Homo sapiens: one gene and its partner. The protein of the gene in region 2 purifies or fractionates together with the protein of the main gene of each other region. This does not show direct contact. Each region holds a gene or a part of one and is shown on either strand. Other genes may lie near its edges.

Evidence for each region.
Region 1: the proteins of EIF2AK4 (region 2) and EIF2S1 purify together in Homo sapiens (affinity purification with western blotting; one study listed by BioGRID). This does not show direct contact.

The regions. Positions count from the first base shown.
Region 1 is NC_000014.9:67,366,686-67,370,509, reverse strand, and holds part of EIF2S1 (eukaryotic translation initiation factor 2 subunit 1), read right to left. Parts: intron 1-3,824. UniProt on the Homo sapiens protein: Member of the eIF2 complex that functions in the early steps of protein synthesis by forming a ternary complex with GTP and initiator tRNA. This complex binds to a 40S ribosomal subunit, followed by mRNA binding to form a 43S pre-initiation complex (43S PIC).
Region 2 is NC_000015.10:40,027,876-40,031,699, reverse strand, and holds part of EIF2AK4 (eIF-2-alpha kinase GCN2), read right to left. Parts: intron 2,295-3,824; coding exon 2,236-2,294; intron 1,342-2,235; coding exon 1,244-1,341; intron 1-1,243. UniProt on the Homo sapiens protein: Metabolic-stress sensing protein kinase that phosphorylates the alpha subunit of eukaryotic translation initiation factor 2 (EIF2S1/eIF-2-alpha) in response to low amino acid availability.

The DNA of each region.
Region 1 (3,824 bases), on a different chromosome or scaffold from region 2:
ATTGGTAATTTGTGTTATTTCCTTTTCTTCATCAGCCTAACTAGGGGTTTATCAATTTTGCTCTTTTTTAAAAAAACAAAAAACAAGTTTTTAACTTTGATACTGTTCTCTGATTTTCTGGTACTCTATTTTCACCGATTATCTTATCCTTATTATTTCTTTTCTTCTACTTACTTTGTGTTGGGAGAAAGCCCCCTAAAATCTAGCCATAAACTGGCCCCAAGACTGGCCATAAACAAAATCTCTGCAGCACTGCGACATGTCCATAATGGTCCTAACGCCCAAGCTGGAAGGTTGTGGGTTTACAGGAATGAGGGCAAGGAACACCTGGCCCGCCCAGGGCAGAAAACTGCTTAAAGGCATTCTTAAGCCACAAACAAAAGCATGAGTGATCTGTGTCTTAAGGACGTGTTCCTGCTGCAATTAATTCGGCCCATCCCTTCATTTCCCATAAGGGATACTTTTAGTTAATTTAGTATCTATAGAAACAATGCTAATGACTGGTTTGCTGTTAATAAATATGTGGGTAAATCTCTGTTCGGGGCTCTCAGCTCTGAAGGCTGTGAGACCCCTGATTTCCCACTTCACACCCCTATATTTGTGTGTGTGTGTCTTTAATTCCTCTAGCGCCTCTGGGTTAGGGTCTCCCCAACAGAGCTGGTCTCAGCAACTTTGAGTTTACCTTTCCTTTCTTTTATCTTCTAAAACAAAAGCCTAGATAACTGTTTTAGATCTTTATTCTTTTCTAATATAAGTAATTAAAGCTATAAATTTTCCCTTAAGGCTTTAATATATGAATTATTTGGAAGGGCTTATTTAATACTGCAAACTCTTCCCTCCCAAGATATGACACTGATTTCAAAATTACTTCCAGTGTGATCAGAGAACATATTTGTATTCCAACCCTTAGAAATTTATTTAGAGTTGTATTAATATTATAGCTCACCTTATTGTCTATCTTGGTGAATGTCATGCACACTTGAAAATAATGTGTATTTTGCCTTTTCTGGGTGCAGTGTTCTAGGTATCAAACAAGTCAAGGTCTTCATTGATCTAATTGTTTCTCCAATTGTTCAGAGCTTGTTCAAACTTCCAACTATGATTATAGATTTGTCTATTTCTCTCTTGAATTCAATTTCTGCTTTATATTTTGAACTCTATTATTAGGCACATACACAGTGATGACTGTTGTTTTCCTTCTAACAAATTGACCCTTTATCATTACAAAATGTCCCTGTTTAAATCTGAAAATACTATGTCTTTAAATCTACTTTATCTAATATTAATAGACACTGTCTCCTTAAGGTATTGTCTGCATAGCATATCTTTTTATATCCATTTATTTTCAACCAAGTATATCTCTTGTAGACAGGATTATCGTCGAGTCTTGCTTTTTAATTCATCCTAACAATCTCTGCCTTTTAGCTGGAATATTTACTTGATTTACATTTAATTACTGATATAAATGAATTCAGTTGTATCAATAACTGAATAATTGAATACCTACATTTTAGGTATTTGTTTTCTATTTGTTCTTTCTGGTTTTTGTTTTTTTCTTTTGAGTTTTCTTTTAGGTTAATGTTTTCTAGAATTCCATTTTAATATATCTTTGGCTTTTACAATAGTGTATTTTGTATTTTACTTACTTATTTCTAGAGATAGTTTCACTATGTTGCCCAGGCTGGTCTTGAACTACTGACCTCAAGTGACTCTCCCACCTCAGCCTCCCGAACAGCTGTGACTACAAGCACAGACCACTGCAACTGGCTTATTTAATGGTTGTTCTAGAATTTACAATATACATCCTTAACCTTTTAATTTTACTACTGCACATAAAATGTAAGAATCGTTAAGAATCATATAGATCTATTTACCCCACACCTCCTGGCCTTTGTGATTAAGTTGTCAAGTGTACTAAGCCTGCTTTAAACAGTATTCTGTTTTCTTAGCTTCTATATTTAACTACTTGGCATCCATTAATCACAGAGCCAACTGTATTAACTATATATTTTATTATTAATATTATTAGTAGTAACTAAATATTTTCTTATTTTCTGTATTCTTGAGGCTCTGACATTTGTGGAGAGACTGCCCCTCCGTCAGGTGGGGAGGAGTCAGCAAAGGGCTTGCTTGGTAGCATGCCTTTCTTATGCAGAGCAGCCAATCTGGAGCCCATAAACTCATACACCAAGCCAAAATTCTCCCTGCTGTAAGTCAAGGGCCAGGTATTAGACAAGCAGGGCAGTCTTTATGCCCCAAGGCCCGCCAAAAGCATTCAAACTAGCCAACTGCAAGCCGTTTACGCTGCTCTGCCTTGCTTTTCCTGCAGAAACTCCAACAAAAGCTCTGACCTACTTTTTCCCCTAGTTCCTTGTGACTCCTGACTAAAACTGGTGCTTCCCCATGTGGCCCTGCATGGCACATCAAGCCCCCTTCTCTCAGGCAATATAAGTAGTAAAAGTTTTCTTTCAAGGGCATTGGACTGTGTCATCACTCAGTCACCTCTATAGATTACAATCCCACAGGCACAAATGAGACAAATAGTTAAATATATTTTTAAAGAAACTAAGAAGGGCAAAAATAGTCTTTTACATTTACCTATATATTTTCCATGTCAGGTCATCACATCTCTTCAGCTTAAAGAACTTCCTTCACCTCTCTCTTTTTTTTTTTTGAGACAAGGTCTGGTTCTATCACCCAGGTTGGAGTGCAGCGGTGCAATCTTGGCTCACTGCAGCCTCCGCCTCCTGGGCTCAAACCATCCCCCTACCTCAGCCGCCCGAGAAGCTGGGACTACAGGGTGCACCACCACGCCCAGCTAATTTTTGTATTTTTTGTAGAGATGAGGTTTTGCCATGTTGCCCCAGCTGGTCTTGAATTTGTGAGTTCACGCAACGTGCCCACCGTGTTCCATTCCATGCACCGTATTTATGAGAATGCTGACCAAGTGTAGAACACTTAGCACAAAGTGACCTGGATGGGGTGGGGCGTGGTGGCTCACGCCTGTAATCCCAGCACTTTGGGAGGCCAAGGCGGGTGGATCACAAGGTCAGGAGATCAAGACCATTCTGGCCAACATGGTGAAACCCTGTCTCTACCAAAAATACAAAAATTAGCTGGGCATGGTGGTGTGTGCCTGTAATCCCAGCTACTCTGGAGGCTGAGACAGGAGAATTGCTTGAACCAGGGAGTCGGAGGTTGCAGTGAGCCAAGATCGTGCCACTGCACTCCAGCCTGGCGACAGAGTGAGACTCCATCCCCCAAAAAAAGAGAATATAGATTTTTTGTTTTAGCAGGCAGTCAGAATCTGAACTCAAAACTATAAGCTCTGTCTCCCCAGATGGTAAGCAACTGAAATCTGTTCAGATTTTTCCCCTATTAGGCTACCTGGAGTCCACCCTGTGTTTCAGTAGTTCAGGGACAAACCAGAGATTTGGGAAGAATTTATATAGACTTAGGGGATCTCCCTTTGTGCCTGCCGCCTCCTTTCTCTAACCCTCACCACTATCACCACCAGTTTCCATCTACTATGGTTGTCTACAACTCTCGCCTCCAGTTCTAAAGCCAATAAGACCATAAATTTTCTGCTAGAACCTTAGCTGCCTGGCTTGAAGCTGTCTTCAGCATGTACTTAGGTCAAAAAAAAAGGTGTAAAACAGAAAACATACCCTTTCTTATAAGTGTCGACTCACCTTCAAATTTTCAATTTTGGCCTGCTTTTGGCTGCTTCTCATTGTCTTTAGGTAGTTATTTTTCATACTTGTTCAGGGTTTATGGCATTTACGTTGAAAGGCTTGTCTAGGAGGACATAATTCTCTAGTATC
Region 2 (3,824 bases):
TGTCTAGCAATATGATCTCAGGGGAAATGAGGTTTTTATAACTTATCTTGACCATTTGTTTAATAATCCTTGTCAATTATCTCTTCATAATTTTGAAATGATTCCTTATAAAGGCGTAGCGCAGTGAAACAGTGCACACAGAGACAGAGAGATGATAGTATGAAGCTAAATTGGGAAAAAGGGAGAGGTGGCAGCAATGAGGACATGGTGTGAGAACTGAAACTTGGTAGGTGATGAAGGCAGTAGGAAGACGGGAAAAATAGGTTTCCACCCAAATCCTGAGAAACAGCTAGAAGAGCTTACAAAAATAAAGTACCTGATTTTTGTATTTCAGTCTGATTACATTTCTAAAATTGACTGCTCTCTTTTAACACTCACTCTTTTGCATATGTCCACAGCATACTCTAACATTCATATTCTATAAATTTAACTCAGTGTTCTACTGTAGTTATTTTATTTTGAGACAAAGTCTTGCTCTGTTGCCCAGGCTGTAGTGTAGTGCCATGATCTTGGCTCACTGCAATCTCTGCCTCCCCAGTTCAAGCAATTCTCCTGTCTCAGCCTCCCGAGTGGCTGGGATTACAGGCGTTTGCCACCACGCTTGGCTAATTTTTGTATTTTTAGTAGAGACAGGGTTTCACCATGTTGGCCAGGGTGGTCTCGAACTCCTGACCTCAAGTGATCCGCCCTCCTCGGCCTCCCAAAGTGCTGGGATTACAGGCATAAGCCACCGCACCTGGCCTATATTTATTTGCTTTTATTATTCTCTATATAATGCATATGCTTCTAAGTTATAAACTCTTTTGAGGACTGGGGCCATGTTAATGTTTTCTACATTTTACACAGCCCTTAGCACACCAGTAGGCATATAGCAAATGCCGAAACCATGTATGGAATGAGAAGCCTGCCTTAAGTCTTGTCATCGGCCTCTTCTACTTTGCTATTTAGAGCACAAACAAACCTCAACTACCTTTAGAGCCAGATTAGATAGTTTTCATTTAGATGCAGTCACTCTGACAACAGCTGCCTTGAGGTGCCCACAGTGCACAATGGCCCCTCTCTGAAGGACAGATGGGAATCCTGGAGCCAGAAGCCACCCAGTTAGGCAAGTTGGAAGAAAAATTTTTTTCTTGGAAAAAATATTTCCAAGAAATTCCATGTTTATCTTATTTTCCTTTCCTGTTGTTGTTTTTCTCTTCTGTAACTCATATTAGAAAGCCAAAGAAACCCTGACCCAGTGTACCTGAGTTTCATAGCGCCTCCTAGTGCTGGCTGACAGCTTCTCCGGGGCTAGCACACTCACAATGGGAACCACTGTTGCTCCATGGATTTCAAACAAACCTGAGACCAAGAGAGTTTCAGAATTTATGGCCTTATCTGGTCCCACTTTCTACAACATACTACAGAGAGATGGCAGAGTTTATTAGTAGACATCCTGTCGTGATTCTAAGGGCTAGATCACGACTGGGCTGTGTTTTCTATCCCTACAACCATCTGCACCGGATAGGTGAGGAGCCCAGAACCCCAACACCCAGCAGTTTTGATGCTTCTCTCCTCAGGCAGGGGTTGGGGGGTGGTGGAAGGGGCAGGGAGGCAACAGGAGTCATCAAAACCTCAGGGGCCTAAGAAAATCAAGCTGAATATCACCAAACCTGCATACTTCTTTAAATTCCTGCAAGAATTGGAAATCTGATGGCAACACAAAGTTAGTGCTAACAGAAGAGAATGGGAAAGACTCAATTCTGTTAAAAGCCAAATATGTCTTCTCATGGCCTTAATTGGAACACTTCTTTAAAAAAGAAGTAAGGTTGCTAGAGGTGATGAAAGCAAAGGCATAACTATCACCACTGTGCCCTCTTGGCTTTCACGAAAACAAAATGTGTATAGTGTCCTTCTTCAAGGGATTTCAAAATACTTCCTTCAATCCTCTGTATGAGGAAAATCTCCAGGAAAATTATACACATTTCACTTGTACAATAAATTGAGTAAAAGGAAGATTAAATCACTTGTAAAAATAAGAGATAGAGTAGAAGAGTCAGCTAAATTCCAGTTGTTTTATCCTTTTCTAGGATGTGGATTTCAAAGCATAGGGATGCATCCCATGTGGTACAATTTATTGCGTATATGTTATTTTAAAAATAGATTTCCAGTGTCACAAGCAGTTAGCTACAGTAATAAGTGCTTAGAGCAAACATATAAGCATCATTATGTTCAGATTATAATTAGTAATTATACCTGAAGCATTAGAAAATGACCCCTTCAGATTTTGCACTGCAAGATTATCGGAAGCTTCTCTAAAAACAAGCAAACAAAAACAATTAAAGAACAGTCAATAAGGCACAAGCAACACATAACTTACAGTGAACTACATGTATAGTGAGCCACTTTTCCATTAAATATAAAAACATCTTCTTGGTTATTGGTGGAAAAACAAAAACAAAAAATTTGCATTTAGTTATGCTTTGGTCAAGAGCAAGTAAAAATTATAAAGGATGTCTTTTTAAGTTAACAAATGCCTAAGGAAAACATTCTGATTTATTCAGCTGGGCGTGAAATCCTGGATCCACACAATAAGCTGATTTCAATGAAATATAATGGGTGTTCTTTCCGCCCCCCTCATAATACAAGGAAACATGAATAACAGCAGCCCCACCTTCATTATGGCAGTAGCCTTGGCAACCACCCACAGGAGAACATTTGGTAAATAAAGATATTCTTTAAAAAGCCGTGAATGGATGTTCTTTCAAATGCTGTGAATTAATTTATAGCCTTTGAGAGAGACAACAGCACTCTATCTTGGGAAAACAGGGAAATAATCATTTGCTGGAGGAAAAACTTTGAACCTTTCCCTGCTAAAACTAAATCCCATGTAGCCTTTTAAGTGTCTTGGTAATGTTCCCCCATACTCACTACTTGGCTATTTCTTGGTTTCTCTTCTAAACCTCTGTCTTTGATTTAGATCTATAATTCCAATACTGGTGATTTCCAGAACATTATGTTCCCTCAGAAACACCTAATGGTGAATTTATTAAGGCTAGGTGCAAATAAGAAGGGGTGGGGGCATGAGAAGAACAGAGCAAGGTTTGTTTTCTGTAAGCCAGGATTTCCCAATCTTGGTACTACTGAAATTTTAGGCCAGAAAATTCTCTGTTGGGGGGTAGTAGTCCTGTACCCTTTAGGATGTTTTCACAGTATCCCTGGCCTCTCCTAGATACCAGTAAAACTCCCCAGTTGTGACAACCAAAAATGTCTCCATACATTGCCAGATGTGCCCTGGGAAGCAAAATCATTGTTGGTTGAGAATTGCTGATGTAAGCCAGAAAAATTACCGTGTGGTATTTTCTGATAATGAGCATACATATAAGAATTTCTTGAGGCGGGAGAGTTGCTTGAGTCCAGGAGTTGGAGACCAGCCTGGGCAACATAGGGAGATCCTGTCTCTACAAATAATTTAAAAAAATTAGCTGGACAAGGTGGTACATGACTACGGTCCCAGCTACTCAGGAGGCCAAGAAGGAAGGATCACCTGAGCCTGGGAGGTTAAGGCTATAGTGAGTCATGTATACACCACTGCACTTCAGCCTCGGCAAAAGTGAGACTCTATCTCAAAAAAAAAAAAAGGAGTTGCAAATATATAGAAAAGCTTAACAAAGTAATTTAAGATCCCTTGTAATCCCACTAACCAAAACTACAATTAAAAATTTGGTACGTTCTTCTAGACATTTTTTTATGTATAGGTTGTATATTTTGTTTAAAACAAAATGGGATTATATATTCGTTGTTGTTGTTGTTCTTTTTGTTTTTTTTTTTGAGACAGAGTCTCG